2 separate regions of the Homo sapiens genome follow, and region 2 is linked to region 1. Evidence: fine-mapped expression QTL. A gene starts in region 1. The other region holds a variant in brackets. All regions are shown on one strand. Distances are between the middles of the regions.

Region 1 (12,044 bases):
GGAGGTAGAGCAACCTGCTGTGGGAGACAGTCACCATCCCCATGTCCTGGGACGTGACGGCCACTGCTGTGCCCAGCACCTTTGGCACATCCCTCATCTCATCCTCACAATTGCTCAGGGAGAGGTGGCCCTGAACACCTCCATTTCACAGATGGGAAGACTGAAGTGCTGTCTTAGTCGGTCTTCTGCTGCTATCACAGAAAACCTGAGACTGAATCATTTATAAAGAAAAGGGACTTATTTAGCTCACGGTTCTGGAGGCTGGGAAGTTCAAGACTGAGGAGCCACATCAAGTGAGGGATGTCTGGCTGCATCATAACATGGCACAGGGAGAGGAAGGGAGAGCAAGACAGGCCGGACCCACAGGATAATGGCTGGAGTGCAATGGCGTGATCTCAGCTCACTGCAACCTCCACCTTCCAGGTTCAAGCAATTCTCCTGCCTCAGCCTCCTAAGCAGCTGGGATTACAGGCACCTGCTGCCACGCGCAGCTAATTCTGTTGTATTTTTAGTAGGGATGGGGTTTTGCCATGTCAGCCAGACTGGCCTCAGACTCCTGACCTCAGGCGATTCACCCAGCTTGGCCTCCCAAAGTGCTAGGATTACAGGTGTGAGCCACCACACCCGGCCCTGATTACCTCTTAAAGGTCCCATGTCTTAATACTGTCACAATGGCAATTAAATTTCAACCTGAGCTTTGGAGGGGATACAGTAGGCACAGGCACAGCAGGGTCAAGTGACTTGTTCAAGGTCTCTGACCTGGTCAGTGGCAGAGCTGAGATTAGAAACACGTCTGTCAGTTTGCAAAGCCCATGCTGACTGCCTGGCAACACAGCCACCCAAGACAGGCAAGGAGAGGGCTTCCGGGGCCAGGGGAAGGAGACAGCCCACCCAGAGCCCTTGTGCAATGCTTTCTGGCACAACAGGGCCTCCTGAAAAGACAGGTGGCAGCCTGGGGCACAGACTGGAGCCACTCTGCCTGCCAGTTCCCAGCTGGGTTAACCTGGGCAAGTTGCTTCATCTCCCTGGGCCTCAGTGCGAAATGCAGATAATCCAAGCACCTCACCTCCTGAGTTGTCATGAGGTAATCAGCTAATGATTAGAAAGTTACTTCACCTCCACTGGGCGCAGTGGCTCATGCCTGTAATCCCAGCACTTTGGGAGGCCAAGGCGGGCAGATCATGAGGTCAGGAAATCGAGACCATCCTGGCCAACATAGTGAAACCCCGTCCCTAATAAAAATACAAAAAAAAAAAAAATTAGCCAGGCATGGTGGCAGGTGCCTGTAGTCCCAGCTATGTGGGAGGCTGAGGCAGGAGAATCGTTTGAACCCAGGAGGTGGAGGTTGCAGTGAGCCGAGATCACACCACTGCACTCTAGCCTGGTGACAGAGCAAGACTCCATCCCCTGCCCTACAAAAAAAGAAAGTTACTTCATCTCACATTTCACTGTGCCTCTATTTCCCAATCTGTAAATCAGGGCTGACGGCAGTGGTTTGCTGAAAGGATTGAAGAAATTAACCCGGGTAAAATGCTTCCAGGGGTGCCTGGGACATTACACACTCAATCTGCATCAGCCATCATCTCTCCAGCCTGGCCCCCTCCTCCTTATCACTCCCCACACAGGGTCCTGCTTCCTTGAACAGCCAATCTGCTCTAACATCTTTGCTTATGCTGCTTCTGCTGCCTGGCAGAGGCCCTAGCCCCAGATATCCTATTTGTCATTTAGGTGTCAGCTTCAAACCCATCATCTCCAAGAAGCCTTCCTGACCACGAAATATGGAGTAGCTCCCTCTCCATGACGCCTCTGCTACAGCCTTTCTCACTAGCTGACCCATCTCTTGCTGACTTTTATTTCATTCTCTTCCTTTCATTTCATTTTGGTCGGTTTCACAGGATGGACACCCCGTGAGACTCGTGGTCAGTCTGGGTCTCAGCTGTATTCCCAGAAACCAGAACAGCCCTGAGCAGCTCTCCCAGGCCAGGTAAGTCCTCAGTTCCCCAAAAGGCCAGCTCCCAGCTCCACACCCATCACTGGGCTGTCAACAGCTGCCCAGGGCCGTGGGAAGCTGCCCTCCATCCCGATCACAAGGAGGGCCTCTGACCTAAGGCCGTGGCTGCTCCTGGCTTTGTGGCCTGGCTAGCTAGTGCCCTGGTATCTAGGGCACCATGGGCTGGAAGAACGGTTGTCAGACTTGGCAGCATCCTGGAACCGGCTGCCTGCAGTCCTGGACTGGTCAGAGGAGGAGACTGGCAGAAATTCAAAGGGGTCAGGAGACATTTGGACTTGAATGTGGGGAAAGGGGTTTGGGCGCCCAGGTCCTGGAGTGAGTGGGGTGGGAGCCGTGACTCAGACCAGGTCCTGGAGTGAGTGGGGTGGGAGCCGTGACTCAGACCAGGTCCTGGAGTGAGTGGAGTGGGAGCCATGACTCAGAGCAAGTGCTGTGCAAGCTTCTGTGGCGTCAGCTCCTGCGAGGGTGCAGGGCGGGATCAATACCAACCCGTCAAGGTGAGCTGTGTCAGGCCCTGGGACTTTGCTGCCTCTCTACAATGTCTGATCCCTCGTCTAGTCCGTAGCTTGCTCCAGGGCTGGCCCAGCTGCCTGGCCCTATGCCCTAGGGCATCAGGGAAAAAGGCGGACAGGGCACAGGGGAGATGAGGTCTTCCCAATCCTGGGGATGGAGGCAGTGAGAGGAGGAGGAGGAACTGGGAGTCTCCACGTTACCTTGACTAAGCAGTTTCCCTCTGCACTTCAGTTTCCCCTCCTGTTAGCTGGTGGCTGATCTGGGGACACCTGACCCCACATTTCACTCCTTGTTCTTATCTTACGAAGTTGACAGCAGTGCCCAGCTCCAGCATCCAGGGCCTTTGGTGCTCACCCACGCCTGTGGCTGTTCTGTGCCCACCCCCAGCACTGCTCTTACCACCCGGCCCCTGCAGTACCAACCACTCCACAGCTCCTGCCTTGCCCATCTCTGCTGGAACCCACTTAAAAAAAATTTTTTTTTGGTATTAAACAAACCTATTTAAAAATGTTAATATCAGGGCCAGGCGCAGTGGCTCACACCTTTAATCCCAGCACTTTGGGAGGCCGAGGCAGGCTGATCATCTGAGGTCAGGAGTTCGAGACCAGCCTGGCCAACATGGTGAAACCCCGTTTCTACTAAAAATACAAAAACCGTGCATGGTGGCACATGCCTGTAGTCCCACTTACTCAGGAGGCTGAGGCAGGAGAATCATTTGAACCCGGAAGACGGAGGTTGCAATGAGCTGAGATGGAGCCACTGCACTCCAGCCTAGGTAACAGAACAAGATTCTGTCCCCCGCAAAAACAAACAAACAAACAAACAAAATGAGCTGGGCATGGTGGCGTGAGCCTGTAATCCCAGCTATGCTGGAGGCTGAGACAGGAGAATCTCTTGAACCCGGGAGGCAGAGGTTGCAGTGAGCCAAGAATGTGCCATTGCACTCCAGCCTGGGTGACAGAGTGAGACTCGGTCTCAAAAAAAAAATTTTTTTTAAATAAATAAATAAATACAAATGCTAATATCAGGAAATCTTGGCAAAGGGTAGCCATGAACACTGTACTTTTCTCACAACTTTTCTGAAAATGGGAGATGATATCAAAATAAAAAGCTCCCAGGCAGGTGCTGTACCTGGGAAGAAAACGGGGGCGGTCGGGGGGGGGGGGCGGCGTAGAAGGACTCTCAAAAAAGAAAAGGTGGAGTCCAGGAGTCCAGGAGGCAGAGGAAAGGCTTGGAGAGGACGAACTAGAGCCATGTGGCTGGTGAGAGGCAGGGTCTCACTCCATTGCCCAGGCTGGTCTCAGGAGCGGCCCTTCCCCACCTGACTGTCGCCCCTCATGCTTGTGCCTCTGCTGTCCGGGAAACAAGCCACGGTGCACGTGGCCCCTAGTGCCTCCTGGAGGTCACCATGCACACATCAGCCCTCAGTCCCTATCACCAAATAATGGATGCCTGGTCACCCTTCCCCACTTGGTAACACCAAGCACCCACCTTCCCAGACCTGCCCTCAGAAAACCCCGGGTTAGTGGAAGTTGGGTAGCGCCCTGGGCCCCAGCCAGAAGCCAGTGCTGCCCCATGTCCCTCCCCCAACAGGAGCCATTTCAATCCTCCACACCCTCCCCTCACTCTCAGGGTTGCAGTGCAAACGCGTGGGTGCCCATTGTCCGCTGGGGCAGAGCAGCAAGTGCTGAGGCCCCTGGCTGATTTTGCACACTAGTCAAACCAGTTATTAGCACCTGTTTCCCAGATTGGAGGAGGGAGCTTTTCTGGGGCTGGGATTGAATCCACTTACCTAAAATTCCCCAGACTTTAGGCAGGCTCCACATTGTGACAGGAATTTAAAAAGAGTAAGTGATAACTAGCACGTACCAGGGACCCTGCTCAGTGTTTTACAGACATCAGTCATCCTTTGCAACCCCAAAGGTAACCCTATGAGGGCCGTCCTGCCACATCTCCACTTGCAGAGGGGAAACTGAGGTGTGTGACACCCAGAGGCCTGTAAGCAATCGGTGAATGTGGCCAGGCCCCAAACATGACGTGCTCGGACCACTGTTCTACTGAGTGGAGTAACGGGGGGACTGAGGCAGGTGCTCTACCTGGGGAGAAAATGCCGGGGCAGAGGGACTCATGGAAAAGAAAAGGTGGAGTCCAGGAGGCAGGGGAGGGGGCTTGGAGGGGACAAGCTAGAATCATGTGGCTGGTGGGGAGGGGCTTTTTATTTTTCCAAGATGGGGTCTCGCTTTGTTGCCCAGGTGGGAGTGCAGTACTGCAACCACGGCTCACTGCAGCCTCCAACTCCTGGGACCAGGCAACCCTCCCGCCTCAGCCTTTCAAGTAGCTGGGACCACAGCTGTGAGCCTGGCTAATTTTTATTTTTGTAGAGATGGGGTCTCGCTTTATCGTCCAGGCTCGTCTGGAACTCCTATTCTTGAGAATTTTCCCTATAGTCATAAGAAATATTGGTTTTTAACCTTATTTTTTTCTAATGTCTTTGTCTGGTTTGGTATCTGGGTAATACTGGCCTCATAGGATATGTTGGGAAATGTTCCTTCTTCCTCTATTTTTCATAAGAGTTTGTGAGGGATTCGTTGAATTTTTCTTTTTCTTTTTTTTTTTGTTGGGGGGACAGAGTCTCACTCTGTCACCCAGGCTAGAGTGCAGTGGTGAGATCTCAGCTCACTGCAAACTCTGCTTCCTGGCTCAAGTGATTTGCCTGCCTCAGCCTCCCGAGTAGCTGGGATTACAGGCGCACACCACCACACCTGGCCAATTTTTGTATTTTTAGTAGAGACGGGGTTTCGCCATGTTGGCTGGCTGGTCTTGAACTCCCGACCTCAGGTGATCCGCCCGCCTCGGCCTCCCAAAGGGCGGGGAGAATAGATGTGAGCCACCCTGCCCAGCCCAAGGCTTATTTTTTAAGCTTTATGACATTCACATGGTCAAGTACGTGGATTGTGAATGCAATCACATTCACATGGGGAAGTTTTTTGCGGGTAAACAACCATGTAATCAGAGCGACCTACGAAGCATTTCCAGCATCCAAGAAGCCCCCAAGCCCCTCCCAGTCACCTCTTCCTGTAGCAGGGAGTTTGGGAGACTAAGAATGTAAGTGCAGGGCCCTAGGACGGACCCACCTGTTGCCCCCTATTGCCTTGAAGAACCTGCAAGGGGCCTCCAGTGCTCTGTGGAAGCAAACCTCACTTCCTTTTGGAGACACTACCGTGCAAGACTGGCCTCAGGGTGGCCCAGTACGTTTGGTTATGCTTGCTTTGGATTTAGGGAGGTATAATAGAATTAGCATTATTTCCAAGAATGGGAAGCCCAGAGGCCTGGACAATATGGCAAAGGACCGGGTGGACCAGGTGCATCTTCCTTGACACCAGCTCGCCCACAACTGTCCTGTGGATGGCCAGGTCAGGCAGACACCGAGAGGGTAGGAGACTTGCTGAGGGTCACACAGCCAGCAAGCCTGAACTCCCGACATCTTCCCTTGCAGGCTCCTGGCCTTCCTGCAACCTCCCAAGCCACCCCAGAAGTGAGCCTGCCTTGGTTCAGCTGCTGGTTCCAGGGCAGCTCCCTGAGAAGATGGTGCTGCTGGGGAAGGCCGTGCTTCTGGACACTTTCTGCTAGACTTGCCACCAGCCCCATCATTCTGGTGATGCCACCAGCCAGACTGTTTTCCCACTTGATGTTGACCAGTCACCCACCCTGAGCTCTGTGCTGCCTGCTGTCTCTGGGGGGCCTCAGACAGCCCACACCAAAATGCAAGACCCAATTCCTGAAGCATCAAGCACGCAGAAACTCAGCCTGGCTCCAGGCCTTACGCTTCCTCCCACAGCCCCGCACCACCTGCCCTCACCGCCATGACTGCTCTCTCCCGCTGGCTGGCTTCTCACTCCTCCCTACTCCTCCCTGCCTGGTGCCTTTGCTCAAACTCTTCCCTCTGTGCCCATCTCCCTTTCTCCCCGTGGTGAACCCTTGATCGACCTCCAAGGTCCTGCTCAAACCTTGCTTTTTCTCCGAAACCTCCGGAACATGTCCCTGCTGAACTCCCAGCCCCTGAACTCCTCCCTTCCTGAACTCACACTGGTGGTCCACTGTTCCAGGGAGGCTCAGTCTGCCTCCGGCACAGTCACAACTGTGGGTGAAATGTTCCTGGCTGTGCCTGCTGTGACCTGGTTCCCTCCTGGAGCAGAGTCAGCACATGGCTTCTAATTACCCCCTGCAGCTGGGGCTGGGTCCTTCCCGCAATGGAGATAGCCTGGGGTACCTGCCACCAGGTGGGTGAGTCTGTGCAGGCCCATGGTCTTTGAGGCAAGGATGCCGCCCCTGGTGTGGGATCAGCAAAGCCCGGTACCGCCCACCTCTGTGGGAGGGGAGGCTGGGCTGGCCTGTCCCAGGGTGCCTTCTGCACCCAGTGCCCATGGGCAAGCTGCCCTTCACTCCCAGGTCAAGGAAGAGGTAGGTGTGAGGCTAAGAGAAGCAGATCCTCCCACCTCTTCCTCCGAAAATGACCCACCCAGGCCATGGGCTGAGCATTCAGTCCACAAACACTGTGCCACACTTCTTCCAGGCACAGATGGAGGACCTGGCCCTCAAGGAGCTCACATGAGAAGGCACTGATATGTGCCATGTGATTAAAGCAGTAACACAGGGATGGGCGCAGTGGCTCCTGCCTGTAATCCCAGCACTTTGGGAGGCTGAGGTGGGCAGATCATCTGAGGCCAGGAGTTCGAGACCAGCCTGAGCAGCATGGTGAAACCCTGTCTCTACCGAAAATAACAAAAATTAGCTGGGCGTGGTGGTGCGTGCCTGTAGTCCCAGCTACTTGGGAGGCTGAGGCAGGATAATTGCTTGAACCTGGGAGGTGGTGGTTGCAGTAAGCCGAGATTGTGCCACTGCACCCCAGCCTGGGTGACAGAGTGAGACTCTGCCTCAAAATTAAATAAATAAATAAATAACATAGCGGTTGCCATTGATTGTGCGCCACTTGATTAAAACAATCACCGTAGTAACCATTGTTTGTGTGCTTATCCAGTGCCGGGCGCTATTCCAAACACGTTACTTGCATTAACTCTAATCCTTACCGGTCCTATGGAGTAAGTAATGTTATTATCCCCACTTGATGGATGAGAAAACTGAGGCACAGATCAGTTAAATTATCCAGGGTCACCAGCCAAGACATTCTGGAGCCAGAATTGGAGCCCAGACAGCCCTAATCACTACAAACCCAAGTTCTTGGAGCTTTGCAGTTTATAAAGCACTTTCCAATGGATTGATTAGGGGAGGAGGGAGGAGGTGGGATGTTTGAGCAGGCTGTAGTGGTAGGTGAGGCTTGGAGAGCGGGTGAGCCAGGGGAAGGTGCAGTGGTGCTGGCTGGAGCGGAGGCTGGCCCCGAGACCTCTCTTTCCCTCAAGTCCCTCCCTGGAACCAGCACAGCTGCGGACTTAAGCCTGGTTTGACCCCAAAGACCAGGTGTCCTGGGTCCGACTCTGCCACTTCCTGGCTGTCACCATCCTGGGCTGCGCCTCAGTTGCCTCATTTGCGTAATGAGGACTGGAATAACATCTGCCCAGACTACCAGAGATCAGGCAAGATTTGGTCCCACTCCCCTGCCGTGTCACCCAGAAATCTATGACCCGATGCGGATCCGGGGCGGGCGCGTGGGGGCGGCGCCAGCGTATACACAGCGCGCGGGCACTTCTGGGGCACACCTGGCGCACAACTGGAGTGGGGGCTGATCGCGACCCGGGGACTTCATTGGCTGGGGCGCAGGTGACGCAGCCCGGGGGCGGCGCAGGGAGCACCAGCACCAGCCCCAGCCCGGCTCCCTCCAGAGCCCACATTTGGGCCCAGCCCCGTCCAAGGCTGCATCCCGGCCCTATCCCGGGTCACGGAGTGACCCTTCCTCGTCCCGATCACCCCGCCCGGTCCACCCGCCATGGGCTTCTTAGAGGAGGAGGGCAGATGGAACCTGTCCTTCTCCGGCGCCGGCTACCTGGGCGCCCACCACGTGGGCGCCACCGAATGCCTGCGCCAGCGAGCCCCGCGCCTCCTCCAGGGCGCCCGCCGCATCTACGGTTCCTCGTCTGGGGCGCTCAACGCAGTCAGCATCGTCTGCGGCAAGTCGGTCGGTGAGTCCCGGACCGCGGGGGCGAAAAGGGGCGGGGACAGCTTAATGAAAGCGGATCGAGCCCAGAGACGCTGGTGCCTGGCGCTGTGCTCTGCGCCCTCTACCCCCGGCACAGCCTCATTTAATCCCATGAGAACACCGAGTGCTGGGGACTAGGTGACCCCCATTTGCAGAGGAGGGATCGTGGCTCAGAGCCAGAAACTCTGTTTCCCAGGTCGGCGGGGCAAAAAGTGAAAAGGTGAACGGATCATTTGAATCCGGGGCCGAGCCCAGAAATTCTGAGCTGGAGTGGGGAGGACCCCGCTCCCACTGCACCTAGGAGGGCAGTGGGGGTGTGGAGGGACTGGCAGGATCCCTGGGCGCTGAGGTCTCCCTTTCCCTGCCCCCACTGCAGACTTCTGCTGCTCCCACCTCCTGGGCATGGTTGGGCAGTTGGAGCGGCTGAGCCTAAGCATCCTGCACCCGGCCTACGCGCCCATCGAGCACGTCAAGCAGCAGCTGCAGGATGCTCTGCCCCCCGACGCCCACGTCCTGGCCTCCCAGCGGCTGGGCATTTCGCTGACCCGCTGGCCTGACGGACGCAACTTCTTGGTCACTGACTTCGCCACCTGCGATGAGCTCATCCAGGTGTGGGGCGGGGGGTGCCCAGGGCTTGGCTGGTGGGCGGGCTCCATCTAGTCCAGAGTGACATCCAGGTACTTCCCCGTCAGACGTTTCTGCAGGGGCGGAAGGAGGGAGGGCGGGTGGACCTGTTTGTAGGTGAGGAAACTGAGGCCCAGAGAGGGTCGGCAGGGTGGGTCTGGAGACTTTCCAGGTTGCTGCACACAGAAGGGTCTGGCTGGGGCCCGGCAGAGTCAGGCTGCTGAGTCAGGGCCCCCACAGGGACTGCTCTTTCCAGAGGGCAGCTGGCTAGCCCCAGCCTCCACCCCACTCCATCCTCCCGCCGCTTTTTGGCGGTGGGTTGACATTTATTGAACACCTATTATGTGCCAGTCACTATTCTAGGCACTGTGACTGTAACAGGGAGCAAAACAGACAGAAACCCTTGCCTTCCTGGGGCTTCTATGCTCAGTGGTTCTGGGGGGCAGGCGGTATCGATAATGAACTCATCTCCAAGTAAGGAGGTAAGGAACCATCCAGTATTGAAATGAAATAGGATGTCTAAAAAAGATGCTTCACATACACCCTGACACTATTATTTGCCAATAGTGTGTACGCGCACGCTCAAGTGCAGGCACACAGTGTGACAACCAAAAATGTCTCTGACATTGTTAGGTGTCCTGTAGGGGAGAAAATCACTCCTAGTTGAGAACCACCAACCCAGAGCTTGCAAACTTTTGAATATAGGACTTTGTCTCATGGAACCCTTGGAAACGTCCCAACTCTCTCTGGGAGGTGCAGAACCCATCCTGGCCCTGACCAGATGGAGATGCAGGTGACAGTTTTGTTCCCACAGACTGATAACAGTCACGGCAGCTAATGTGTACTGAGCACCTACTATGTGCCAGGCCCCATCCCAACTGCTACACAGGCAAGGAGTCTGGGCCACTCTTTGGGGTCCCCGGCTGGCTTCCTCAGGAGCCTGCACCTGGCCTCCTTCCCTGCACACCCACAGAAAGAGGAGGTGGGTGTCAAGACAGAGGTGCTCCAATCCCTGCTTCCCTTGGAGAGCTTGGCTGGGAGGTGATGCCTCAGCTCCCTCATCTGGACGTGGGACTGATGACACCTCCTTTGCAGGCTGTTGGGATTAGAAACCGTGCCTAGGAAGGTTCTGAATGCAAGAAGCATGCACAGTTGTGTTCCTGCTGACTCTTCTCTTCCTAGGCCTTGGTCTGCACCTTATACTTTCCTTTCTACTGCGGGCTGATCCCCCCCGAGTTCAGAGGGGAGGTGAGTGCACTCTGGAACCCCGTTCTGTGCTCTGGGCAGCCTGGGGTGCACACCGTGGAGAGGTGCTTGGGTGGAGGAAACCAGCGCTCCTTGAGCACCTACTGTGTGCCAGGCCCTCCCCCTGCTCCTGGGGGGCGTTCAGCCTCCTGGGCTGGAGTGGCCCTGGTGACTCAGGGACAGCTGGAGGGTCACCGGCTGCAGCCAGTGTGGGAGGCCCTCTGAGAGGGCAGCACCACCCACCTGCTCCCCACAAATTGCAGCGCTACATCGATGGGGCTCTGAGCAACAACTTGCCCTTTGCAGACTGCCCCTCCACCATCACGGTGTCGCCCTTCCATGGGACAGTGGACATCTGCCCCCAGAGCACCTCCCCCAACCTGCATGAGCTGAACGTCTTCAACTTCAGCTTCCAAATCTCCACTGAGAACTTCTTCCTGGGGCTCATATGTCTCATACCCCCCAGCCTCGAGGTAGGTCTGGCCCTGTGATGGTGTTAGAGGCTTGGCCAAGGTCAAGGGCCCCGTGAGTCAGACTCTGTGTGCTCCTAACCCCCACTGCCCCCCGAGCCTGAAGGCAGTTACAACACATGTCCCGAGTCTCACAGCCAAACACCTGAATCCTAAGCTTGGGGTTCAGTTGTGTCCTTACTGTTCTTGCTGCCCTGAGCCAGTGATGAATGAGGACTGGCCCCATGTCAATGGGACACACTCACGCCAACTCTGCTTAGCTGGCCTTTGAGCAGGGCCTTTGCCTGTGCTCCTCTGGGCCAGGGTCTGTAGGCAGGTACCGTTATCATTTCCATTTCTCAGGGGAGGATGCTATGGTTCAGAGAGGTTAAGCAACTTGTTCAAAGTCACACAGACTGGAAGCAGCAAAACCAGGATTCAGACCTAGAGCTGGCTCAGGCCCATGCTCTTGACCACCGTCCTTGACTGTGGCCAAATTGACCATCCATTGTAGAGGCAAGGCACAAATGCAAAGAAAAAAATGAAGGAAGCGTTTTTTTACCCCTTGGTATTTCTGGAAAACAGATAATTTGACAACTATTGAAATATACTCCTCCTGGCCGGGTGTGGTGGCTCATGCCTATAATCCCAGCACTTTGGGAGGCCAAGGCTGGCAGATCACTTAAGGTCAGGAGTTTAAGACCAACCTGGCCAATATGGTGAAACCCTGTGTCTACTAAAAATACAAAAATTAGCTGGGCATGGTGGCGCATGCCTGTAATTCCAGCTACTCAGGAAGCTGAAGCAAGAGAATTGCTTGAACCTGGGAGGTGGAGATTGCAGTGAGCCGAGATAGTGCCATTACACTCTAGCCTGGGTGACAGAGTGAGACTCCATCTCAAAAAAAAAAAAAAAAAAAAAAAAAAGAAGGAAAGAAAGAAACACACACACACACACACACACACACACACACACACACACTCCTCTGCCCCATCCACATCCTGGCTCTTCCTTGTCCCTTCTACCTCTCAGGTTTGTGTAGTGCTTTCTA
Region 2 (12,394 bases), 80 kb after region 1:
CTTCCCCAGTCCACGCATCCCCAGACACTGAAGTGAATGGTTGAGGGCCTTTTCCCTGTTTCTGTCTCTCAGGTTGACCCTTTACAATCCATAGTACATGCAGTTCCCAGATGGGGAAATAATCTCTCAGATCCAGTTTGTGGCCTGGCACCCATCTCACTGCCAGAGAACCACGGCTTGTCTGTGCCCTCCGTGTCCCAAGTATGCACTTCCCTCCGCCTGGGTTGCCATTCCCCGACTTGACCCAGCTTACACTGATTCAGTGCGATCCAGGCACGATCTACTCCAAGACGCCCTTGGGCACAGTCCAGGCATGATCTACTCCAAGAAGCCCTCTGCCAAGGGTAGGAGCTCAGAGCTCCACTTTTGGTTAATATTACACCTCCCTTAACATATCCCGGATACACGGCCATCTGCCGGGAAAGCTTCTTGAGGCCAGGGCCATGTCTCTCTCACTTTCCTTGGCATCAGGAACTTAGCACAGAAGCAGTGCTCCGTGAAGCCTGATGGCTGGGAGCATTCCCAGAGTCTGACGGATCCAGCCTTGCCTTGTCATGTCAGCTGTGTCCAGCTGCCTCCACTGGCTATGCACTTGGAAGGCCCTCTCTGGCCCAGCCACACTGCTCACTCTGAGACCTTGACCTGCACTTCTAACGTTCGCTTCCCTAACTGCTATGGACCGTTTGGCCCCTTGGAAAGCCTTCCCCGTTATCTGTAGGTGCTGCCAATCCATGTCCACCACATGCCTTGGGCTGGTTTAAAAACGCAATCTCCTGGGGGCTGCCATGAATGAATCCCAGCTCACTGCCATCCTGGACACAACTAGGCCTCAGTTTTTACCAAGGACCTTAGGGGGGGGTCACCAGATCTGGCAGACAGGCTGTTTTTCAATGGGTGATGGCTGCCTCCATCCTGCGTCTCCATCACGCCCGGACTCTGCAGAGGAAGAGAAGGCCGGACCGTTCCTTAGCCCACAGAAGGCGTGACTGGCATATCTTCACTCCCATCATGAGACGGGATGCAGAAACGCATATCTTTTTTCCTTAGAAGTGTGCCAGCAGTTAGAGCCTTGAATTCGGAAAGAGTGATGATTCCCTGTAGTGGTATATCGGTTTGCATTTGCTAACTGCTTTCAAGTTTTCTTTCCTGAGTAGATATTTCTAGTCCAAGTAGGCTGTGAGCAGAGTCTGTGCCTCATTCATCCCTCTGTTCCCATACTGTGCATTCGTTCCTAACAGGTAATCCATAAATGCTTGTTACCTAACTAAAGGCAAATTAAATGCTAAACAGCACTAATGACAAGCTGTTGCAAGATCCCGGCTCTCAGGAAAGAATTACTTGTGGTTGTCAGGGGCCTGCCTGTTGCCCAGGTGTAGGAAACATGAAACACTTCTTTCCCAACTGCTTCTCTATTCCAGAGGTGGTGCATTCTTCTAAGATTGCTGCAATATAATGTTTGGGAGGCAGGTTTCATTAAAATTATTTTTTGAGACAGAGTCCCACTCTGTCACCCAGGCTGGAGTGCAGTAGTGCGATCTCAGCTCTCCTTAACCTCCACCTCCCAGGGTTCAAGCGATTCTCCTGCCTCCGCCTCCTGAGTAGCCGGGATTACAGGCACCTGCCACCACGCCTGGCTAATTTTTGTATCTTTAGTAGAGACAGGGTTTCACCATGTGGACCAGGCTGATCTCGAACTCCTGACCTCAGGTGATCCCTCCGCCTCGGTCTCCAAAGCACTGGGATTACAGGCGTGAGCCACTGCGCCCAGCCAGGGTTCATTAAAATTCTAAATATCAGTGTTCGACACCACGGAATCTTGTTCAGGAGCAACATAAGTGGATTTTATTCTTCTTTCCGTGAAAGGAAACAACCAGTAGCTATTAAAGGAAATTAAGAGCTTAATAGTATATCAGTCTCTTAAAGGGGAAAGAGAACATGCCTAGGTGCTTTGCTGAGCCTGTGGAGAGCCGCTCTCCATGGAGGATCCTCAGATAGATCCTCAAATGGCCCCCTGTTTACAAGTAATCATCAATTATTTGTAGTGACAACGTTTAACATGTGCAATTTAGTTTCTGGCTGATTGAACTAAAACGAGCAGCTGCGTCATCTGTCAAGGTAAATATTCGAGAGATAAAGCAGCTATTTTAATAAAGAAAAAATAACCACAGTAGCTTTTCCAAAAGAGCTACTTATACCTCATTTATTTTTATGTCATATTTTTTTTTCCTCCTCAGGACAGCTGAAGAGAATCTTGTCTCCATTTTATGAGACTACCAAAAGGACAGCAGTCAGGGAAGCAGATTTCTGAGAGGGAGAGGCTCTCCGCTTCCATGTGGACACGCTACGCATCCCTGCCACGTACTTGCTCTTCTTCCCTTCTTTATTAATAGACATGGTGGAAACCAGTACTTAACTTCTTCGTGGCTAATCAGCCCCTACTGTTTCTTTCTCCACATGAAGGCATAATCTGCATTCGTAACATCATCACTGATGCCTGTGAGATAATTACAGGCTCGATCTTACGGCCCAGTCTCTTAGGTGTACAGAATTGTGGTGAAAACCAGCTCCAAGCCCCCAAAACCCGCAGGGTGGGCAGAGGGTGATTGTCACCCAGGTCTCCATGATCCCAGAGTTTCTTCTTGAATACTGAGGGAATGGACCATCTGTTGCATATAAGTGTAAAGATATTTTCTCCAGCAATTCATGGTTTCCTTTTCAAGATTCTCATCAAAGGTCTTGAGCAGCAGACTCATGCCATGGGTGTAAATAGTACAGATGGTAACGGTTCCTCAGGAGGTGAGTTTACTGGCTTCAGTGATGCTGAATGGTATCTAGGAAAAGGTAGGACCCTCACCCACCAAATCCAGGCTTCAGCCTGTTGGAAGTGGACCCACTGCAGGGCACCTAAGGGAACCATCAATGTCTTCTGGGAAGTTTTTTTCAGAGAAGACAACAATCTCCTCCTACAAACTGTTCCTTGGGGCCACTGTCACATTATACAACTCTGGTCTGTTCCATCAAAGATCAAACCTTATTGAATAGATTTTAGGGGCTCATCTAGATAATAAATGAGGGAAATTTCAGTTTCTGTAAAAATTAAATCTGCACATGGAGGTGAGACGTTTCCTGGAACAAGGAAAACCCTCTGGATTGAAGATGATCTTTAAGGAGAAAAAAGAGAGAATCACGTGACAAAACTTCATGATGGACTCATCTAATTAGTCATTTCAACATATAGAAAAATTATCCTTGGGTTCAAGGAAATCAGCAAGGGTTTTGAGTTTCTGGGTTCTTGGCTACATTGATCCAGTTGTACACCACTTATGTGTGCGTCACTGTTACTGTTGTTTTTTTTTTTTTTTTTTTTTTGAGACGGAGTCTCGCTCTGTTGTCCAGGCTGGAGTGCAGTGGCGCAATCTTGGCTCACTGCAACCTCCGCCTCCCTGGTTCAAGCAATTCTCCTGCCTCAGCCTCCCAAGTAGCTGAGATTACAGGTGCCCACTACCACGCCTGACTAATCATTGTAGTTTTAGTAGAGATGGGATTTCACTATGTTGGCCAGGCTGGTCTCGAACTCCTGACCTCAGGTGATCCTCCTGCCACAGCCTCCCAAAGTGCTGGGATTACAGGCATGAGCCACCGTGCCCGGCCTGCTTCACTGTTGAGAGCAGGCCAGTGCAAAAGACATTAAGGTATTCCCTACTAGAATTCCATGTTTGCCCACACAGCCAGACATTGGCCAGGGTTTATCACCTAAAATTATCCCTCAGGTTCTTTTGGATTGAAGATGCTTCCAGGACTGTGAGACAATACATTTCTGTTGTCCAAGCTGCCCAGTCTGTGGAAATTTGTTACCGCAGCCCTATCTAATACAACTCCCTTTCTCAGATCCACTTAAACTGTGCACGTTTTGCCCCAATTGCTTTATTATTTGCTATCTATCAATACATAATTTTTTCAGAAGCATTTGAAAGTAAGTTACAGGCTGGGCACAGTGGCTCATGCCTGTAATCCCAGCACTTTGGAAGGCTGAGGCAGGCAGATCACTTGAGATCAGGAGTTCAAGACCAGCCTGGCCAACATGGTGAAACCCTATCTCTACTAAAAATACAAAAATTAGCTGGGCTTGGTGGTGTGTGCCCGTAATCCCAGCTACTTGGGAGGCTGAGGCAGCAGCATCGCTTGAACCCAGGAGGTGGAGGGTGCAGTGAGCTGAGATCGCATCACTACACTCCAGCCTGGGCAACACAGCGAGACTCTGTCACAAACAAACAAACAAAACACCAAAAACCATTAAAAAAATGGAATTATCTTTATTTTTTTTTTCCTAATGTCTTCTTATGATAGGATTAGGTGATGCATTCCAGATTAGAATACTACAGCAGTTGCCCTTTTCAACGGAGGTTGTCCTTCACATTACATCTGAAGCCACACAATGTCCATGCTCCTTGTTGGTAGTGTTAATTTTTATTATGGTATCCAAGCATTGTCCATTTTTCTTTTGTATTATGACTACTTTTTCTCCTGTAAGTAATAAGTGATCTGTGGGACTATCCTTTAAAACAATGCAAATATCCTGCTCCCCATCCAAAGAACCCCGAGATGAAGCACCCGTGAATGATCCTTGCCTGAATCAATCTTCACTCAGTGGTTGCAACATGATGGCTTTTCAGCTCTAGTCCTCCTGCATGACCATTTGTCCCTAGGCCTGCTACTGCAAGCACGTGCCCTCCCTTGTCCTGCATTTATTCTATCTGTCCATCGCTCCTGGGCCTGGACTCATGACTCCTATTTCTTTTACTGTCCTTCATTATTCTGGCCAGCAGGAGCCCCATTCAAGCTGGCTTCTGGGCTTTGTGACCATAGCGATCCTGGGGGGAGAATGAGGTTGAGGTTGTAGGATGGTCCCAGTGGCCCTGCATGCTGTTTTAAAGATTTTTATTTTTAGCATAAGAAGGCTTTTAAGGCAAGGTAGTGCAGGGGAACTTGGAGAGAATGGATGAGATTGCTACCATGTACGTATTCTGGTGTTAGAATCGACAAGACTTGCTGAAGCACTAGATATGGGGTATGAGGTAGTGATCATTGAGGGTAACAACAAGGCTTCCTAGTTTGAGCATTGCTTTGGAATAGGTGAGTGCGGGCAGGCACAGTAGCTCACACCTGTAATCCCAGCACTTTGGGAGGCCGAGGCAGGCGGATCACGAGGTCAGGAGTTCAAGACGAGCCTGGCCAACATGGTGAAACCCTGTCTCTACTAAAAATACAAAAATCAGCTGGGCATGGTGGCTCACGCCTGTAATCCCAGCTACTCGGGAGGCTGAGGCAGAGAATTGCTGAAACCTGGGAGGTGGAGGTTGCACTGAGTCGAGATCGCACCATTGCACTCCAGTCTAGGCGACAGAGCAAGACTCCGTCTCGAAAAAAAAAAAAAAGTAATAGGTGAGTGAGGGAGGTGAGTGGATCAAGGGCAATATGGATGGCTTAAGTCTGAGTGATCTCCAGTACATTCCAGTAGAGGGGTCAAGGCTGGTGAGAAGCATAACAGCAGGACCTACGACAGGGTCAGAGGGGCCCTAACATCCAAAGGCCACACAGAGGAGGGAAGTCACCAGTGGGGCCCAAGAATTGAGTAGTTGGTGTGGTATTAGAGAAGCCTGAAGTATTTCAGGCAGAAAGGAGTGATCAACTGGGCTGAATGCTACTGAGAGGTCAAGTAATGTACGGCCAAGTAGAGAAGAAGTATTTGTGAGAATGCCAGTTACCAGGCAATGAGAGTCACGCTTCTGTGAAATTTGGTAACTGAAAGACAGCATGTATAGACAGCTCTACTGAGAAGCAGGTTAAAGAGGAGCAGAGAAATGGGGTGGAAACCAGAAGATCATCTATTTTTTTTTTAAAGATGTGAGATACTAGAGCATGTTCCAAGAAGGAGGGAAAGAGAGAAAGAGAAAGAATGAGACTCTTGGCTATCATGAGAGAGGGAATAACTGAAGCCCTTTTGATCTCAGGACCAAACTTTTTGGCCTCAGGATCCATTCACACTCTTAAAAAGTATTGAGGATCCCAAAAAACTTTTATTTATGTTTATATCTATCAATATTTACCATGTTAGAAAATACAATTGATAAAAAATTTATTAACTCATTAAAAATAATAAACCCATTAGATGTTAACGTTCTCTAATGAAAAATTACACTTTCCAAAAAAGTGAAAAGAGGGGCAGTTTTCTATTTTTGCAGATCTCTTTAACATCTGGCTTAGTACAAGACCGCTGGATCTCTTACCTTCTTTTGCATTCAATTTGTTGCAATATCACACATCATGTAGCTTCTGGAAAATCCCCCCATATACTTATGAGAGAAAAACAATGAAAAAGCAAGTAAAGTCTTAAGTGTTATGAAAGTATTTTTTGGCCCCATGGACAGTCTGAAAGGGTCTCAGGATCCCCAGGGATTCCCAGACCACACTTAGAGCACTGCCTATAATAAAGAAGGCAAATGGGGAGGGATCCAGGACACAGTTAGAGGGACTGGCCTCTGTAAGAGACCCTCTTTTGGGGCAAGAGGAAAAGAGGCGATGAATGCCAAAGTGATTGTGAAGGAGTGCATTCCATTCTTATGCATTACATTTTCTCAATGGGATAAGACCCATGGTCATTGAGTCCGGTGAGGAAGTAGTGAGTGCGGGAGGTCTGAGACAAGCCATGGGAAAGAATTCTCTTGGTGAACAGGAAAACTAGCTGCCCAGTGAAGTA[G/CAG]TCAGAGTGCCCAGCAGGGACCGCATAGTATCCATCTTTGCAGCACACACCAGGGCACCTAATTGACCTGCCGCAGCCATGTGTGCAAGGAATTCCAAGCTGCACACGTCTGCCTGGCTGCTTCTCTCCCACAGTGAGCAGTGTGGCAGGGTGCCTAAGAGCAAGCTCCATAGGTTCTCATTCTGCTCCTACCCCTGACTGGCAGTGTGTCCTTGAACAAAATGCTCTGTGTGCCTCAGTTACCTATCTGTAAAATGGGAGTAACCACAGCACCCACCTCACAGGGTTGTTGTGAAGACAAATGAAGATGACAATTACATGTAAAGTACATACCTAGGATGGGTGAGTGCCTGGCAAGGGAAGTGCTCCATAGGGTCAGCGACAACAATTACATTCACTCACGTGATTTATGGCGCTTCCACTCGGCCCTCTGTCTTAGTAATAATTCACTCATTTAGCGAATATCAATGGAATGGATGCTTACTGTGGGTATGGGCGGAGGCTGAGGTTACAGCCTGGGCAAAGCAGGCCAGCTCCCGTCCTCACCGGCTGTCTCCTCGAGCAGACAAGCGGACCCAGTGAGACCCGCTACGTGGTGGCACAATGCGAGTCCCCATGACTGCTCACCCTAACGAAGGCGCAGGATGCGGTAGGGGCTTTGCGGACCTCACTGCAGCCAATCCTGACCACAGGCCCCAGTGGGCACGCTTAGCCTTTTACAGATGCAGAGTCTGCTTCTCAGAGCAGGGGGCTGACTTCCCCCGGCTACACGGCCCTATGCAGTTCGGTGGGACCGGGCCGACCGCCCAGCTCGCGCTAAAGCCCACGTAACAGAAACCCGCTCCCATGACACGGGTCGCCAGGGTTCCCGCTCCCCAGAGAACGGGACTTCCGGCGGAAATTTCTTCCGGGAGCGGAGGCGCGGGACTGACCTGGCCCCGCCCCCTCCTCGTTTATCTCCAATTGACCAATCACAGCTCAGCTTCTTGCCAGGCGCGTAGGCTCATTCTCCAGTCAGCGACTGCCGTCGTCTCTCGGGCAACAGCGTCCTAGAGACGCCGAATGGGCAGCCCCTCTGAGACCCCGCGGCTTGGGGTCCGCGCACGCGGGTGCCGGCCCAGCTAGGCGGAGAATCGAGGAGGGGTTCCCGGTAAGGCTGTATTCGGGGTGGCCACGCGCGTGCGACAGGCCGAGGAGGGGCCGGGCGGGCGGGCAGCTCCGTGGGTCTCACTGCCCTGAGAAGGCCGGCGCTGCTGCCCACCCCCAGGGACGAAGGGGTGGTGATTCGTTTATTCAGGTGTTCATGGCGCGTCTGCTTGTGCCAGGCATGTTGTAGGCCCTGGGGCCCTGTGGGGAACAGTAGGGCCCCTGTTCCCGTAGCTTACCTGATATGTGGAGAAGAACGATAAACAACGCTGACGGTGGTGACGTCTTCTTCCCTGCCTCTCTGTGAGAATCAGCTGGGAAATGTGTGTGGAAACGCCCTAAATCTCTCCAGTTTACAACATGTCTCATGCCCCTGATTTCATTTGTGCCCACAGCAGTCTTGTGAATGTCATGATTGACTCCCTCCTGTAGACAGACGAGGACTTGAAACCTGTGGGGTGAAGGGGCTTTTCCAAAGTCACACAACTATCTTAGGAAGTTTCTGAGCCAGAATTCAAACTCATTTCTGTATCACGGCAAAATCTCTGCTCTTTTACACTCTTCTCCCACAGCCTGCACATAATTACCCCTGCCTCCCTCAGAAATTTTGTTTGGAAGCACTTTGTGAGGTATACATCTGTATAGGGCTTACTTGAAGGTTGTCCAAATCACCCCTCTCTCTACTCCCTTCCTTTCTCTCCAAATCTTTGCCTTTCAGGATGTCTTGCCCCTGTTAAGAGGACTCTTCTTTTCTTTTCTTTTTTCTTTTCTTTTCTTTTCTCCCTCCCCTCCCCTCCCTTCCCTTCCCCTTTCTTCCCTTCCTCCCCTCCTCTCTCCTCCCCTCCCCTTCCCCTCCGCTCCCCTCCCCTTCCCTCCCCTCGCCTCTCCTTTTCTTTCCTGATGGAGTCTTCCTCTGTCACCCAGGCTGGAGTGCAGCGATCCCAGCTCACTGCAACCTCCACCTCCCGGGTTCAAGCGATTCTCGTGCCTCGGTGTCCCAAGTAGCTGGGATTACAGGCGCCTGCCACCACGCCCAGCTAATTTTTGTATTTTTAGTACAGACGGGATTTCACCATGTTGGCCAGGTTGGTTTCAAACTCCTGACCTCAAGTGATCCATCCGCCCGCCTTGGCCTAATTTAATATGTGTTCCTAAATGGGTGGCCTTAACAGAAATGCTGTAAATCAATTCTACTTTCATACACTACAGTTCATGTCTTTTATCCATTGCCTTCAATTCAGCAAACGTTTACTTGGCTAAGTTCTGGGGATATGAAAGTGAGTCAGAAATGGCCCCTTTGATTATATGTGAAGATATTTGCCTCCTATCCAGTCTTATTGCAAGATCCTTTGAGGATGAGGATTTTATTTTAGTTATCTGTGCTTTCCCTTTTTCCTCTATGCTTATTTTAATGCTTGGTTCATGATAGGTGATCATAGATATTTATCAAGAAGTGCTTACCTGAGACTGTAAATTTCGCTCTCCAGGGAAAAACTGCCCTGTTCCAGCTATCTACCTCTTCCCCTTGTACAGAGATCTCTATAGCACCCATGCTCTGATCTCTGCAGCTGACTGGCACCTGGAGACAGAACCAGCTCCATGAGGATGTTTAGTAGCCTGGTGCCTGCCCAGATCAGGAATCTGGTGAGAGGCCACTGGTTGTTAACAAGGCAGTTGTTAACAACTGAGACAGGTTTGAGAAAACTGTGAATAGAGATAACATGAATATGATACCCTTTCAGTATTAAAAGCTTCATTTTCTACTTTTGGTTTTGATCTTTCACTGCTATTTTGTTTACTTTGTTTCAGGTACCATTTGTTACTTTTTCTTTCCATCTATTTGTCCACAGTTTTACTACTTCTATTTCTACTACAGCAACTACTAATACTACTACTGGCTAATACTAATTGAACACTTACTGTGTGCCAAGCACAGTTTGGTCCCTCATACTTTTTAAATTTAGTCCTCACAAGTTGGCTATGGAAAAGTACAAGTTGGGTGTGGTGGCTTATGCCTGTAATCCTACCACTTTGGGAGGCTGAGGCAGGAGGATCGCTTGAGGCCAGGAGTTCGAGACCAGCCCAGGCAACAAAGTCAGACCCCCCCCATATCTATGGTGGCATGTGCCTGTACTTCCAGCTACTCAGGAGGCCGAGATGGGAGGATCACTTGAACCCAAGAGTTTTAGGTTGCAGTGAGCCATGATAATGCCACTGTACTCCAGCCTGGGCGACAGAATGAGACCCTGTCTCAAAAAACAAAACAGGCTGTGCGCGGTGGCTCATGCCTGTAATCCCAGCACTTTGGGAGGCCGAGGCGGTTGGATCACCTGAGGTCAGGAGTTCGAGACCAGTCTGGCCAACGTGGTGAGACCCTATCTCTACTAATACAAAAAATTAGCCAGGCATGGTGGCAGGCACCTGTAATCCCAGCTACTCCAGAAGCTGAGGCAGGAGAATCTCTTGAACCTGGGAGGTGGAGGTTGCAGTGAGCCGAGGTCACACCATTGCACTCCAGCCTAGGCAACAAGAGTAAAACTCCATCTCAAAACAGACAAAACCAAAACCAAACAAAAAAACAAAACAAAAGGCAACAGGGACACAGAGAGGTTAAGGGACTTAACAAAGCTGATAAATGGTAGTGAGTATGGCTCCAACTCCAGGACTGCCTGATAATAACCTGTGTTCTTGATGAGTATGCTATCACTCTCAAACACTTATATACTCTACAAGTCCTGCCAAGGCTTTGAGATGACTTGTAAGAATAACTACAATGTGATAAAATAGAAACATGTAAATCAGAATCATTAAAAATATAGACAGAATAGGAAGGTATCAGAAAGAAGGAATACTCAGATCATCTATAACGGTTAATAAAGTTGGGCTGGAAATTTAGCTGGGAGCTTCTTGTCAACTCATGGAAAAATAAAAGTAAAAAAATAGAAGGTAATAAAATTTATTTTTTTTTCCAGGGAAATAAGGCCTTTTGATTCATCTGGAAAAATAGGTCTAACCTGTTTCTAAAATAAATTTCTCACAGGGCTCATCGCAGAGGATTGGAAGGGCCTAGATTACTGCCCAATGACAAAAGTGTGGGCTTAATGTCCTCACTCTTCAGGGAGAGAATGTGGACTTTAGCATTTGAACTGAATATTTGAGATTGAAGATTTCTGAATAGTAAGTTTTCGATAACACCTTCTGAATGTAGTTTTTCCCCTGGGACGTTGTAAATGGTGTTATCCTGCATCCTGGGTTGGTTTCAGTCATTTGTTTGCTCATTTACTTAGCAACTATTCATTGAGCATCTGCCATATGCCAACCCCTGCCTAAGCATTGGGGATCCCCAGGCAGTGGTCATCTCACTGCCTTGGCACTCCTGGTGTTTCCATCCTGCCAGTTCTTCCTGCTGGGTTTTTTTCTGGACTCACTTTTTGTTTTTTCTCTGTTATTTTATTCTGATATTCTGAGGTGACACCTATAACCATATAGCTGTTTTTTGTTTTTGTTTTTGTTTTTGTTTTTGCCCAATGCTCTGTCTGATTTATCTTTCTGTATATCCTCGGGACCTAAAAATAACAGCTACCAAATAGCTAAAGTTCACTGTGTGCCAGGCACTTCACGAATATCACCTGTGATCCATCTACACCTTTGGAGCAGTGGCATTTACCATTTTGGGGTCACCTGCCTTTTGAGAAGTGCTCTAGAAAAATCATCTCACACACAGTTTTGCATGTCAGTAAGTCTGTAGGGCTATAAAAGCACACACATGGACCGCGATTCCATGTTAAGAATACTTGCTTAAAGGAGAGATATTCCAGTGGTCCCTCAGTATCTGTGGGAGATTCGTTTCAGCACCCACTCGAAGATACCTAGATTCATGGATGTTCAATTCCCTTATATAAAATGGTGTAGTATTTGCATATAACCTACATAATCCTCCCATATGCTTTAAATTATCTCTAGATTACTTACAATACCTAATACAATGTAAATGCTATGGAAATCGTTATACCATATCATTGAGACAAGGAAAAAAGTCCATACATATTCAGTACAGACATCAACATCCATATTTTTCCTGAATATTTTCAATCCACTGTTGAATCTGTGGATGTGGAACCCATGGATATGGACGACAACTGTATCTCCCTTTTTCAAATGAGGAAACTGAGTCAGGAGGAGGTTAATTAACTTGCAAGTTGTTGTGGTGGATGGTGGAGCCAGTTTGACCCTATGCCTGCTTGACGTCAAAGGTTTTGATTTTTCCACCGTCCAAGAATGTAGATGCTCAGTAAATGGCCAATGTGTATATGGAAGTGTGTGGAAGGCTATAAAGGGAACTTGATAGTTGATATGTCCCAAAATATAACAGTCCATTTGATATCAGTATAGACAAGAAGATTTTTCTCAAGTGTTTGGATTTAACTGCCAAAACCTTTTGTGTTGCTTACAATTTTTTCCAATTTAGTCGAGTGATAATTTCCACACCCC

Direction of the effects. Positions count from the first base shown, and alleles are read on the strand shown. Sizes are in standard deviations (SD) of each study's normalised expression.
With allele G in place of CAG in region 2, the expression in hippocampus of the gene that starts at base 8,333 in region 1 is lower (small effect, 0.31 SD a copy in GTEx).

Evidence for each region.
Region 2: its variant is fine-mapped to the expression of PNPLA5 in hippocampus (GTEx, PIP above 0.99). The same link has a PIP of 0.9 or more in cerebellum, cerebral cortex, iPS cells, nucleus accumbens and prefrontal cortex.

What each region holds. Positions count from the first base shown.
Region 1 is chr22:43,888,302-43,900,345 of GRCh38, reverse strand. PNPLA5 (patatin like domain 5, triacylglycerol lipase) reads left to right here and starts at 8,333. Exons shown (of 9, transcript NM_138814.4): 1 at 8,333-8,658; 2 at 9,052-9,284; 3 at 10,482-10,547; 4 at 10,808-11,017. The coding sequence starts at 8,466. RefSeq lists an enhancer at 1,707-2,906.
Region 2 is chr22:43,807,681-43,820,074 of GRCh38, reverse strand. EFCAB6 (EF-hand calcium binding domain 6) reads left to right here and starts at 7,770. Exons shown (of 32, transcript NM_022785.4): 1 at 7,770-7,907; 2 at 10,944-11,080. EFCAB6-DT (EFCAB6 divergent transcript) reads right to left here and starts at 7,653. Exons shown (of 2, transcript NR_186822.1): 1 at 7,091-7,653; 2 at 2,173-3,161. RefSeq lists enhancers at 1-59, 6,363-7,164, 7,406-7,675 and a silencer at 8,007-8,248. The variant G/CAG (reference allele first, on the strand shown) is at 6,758.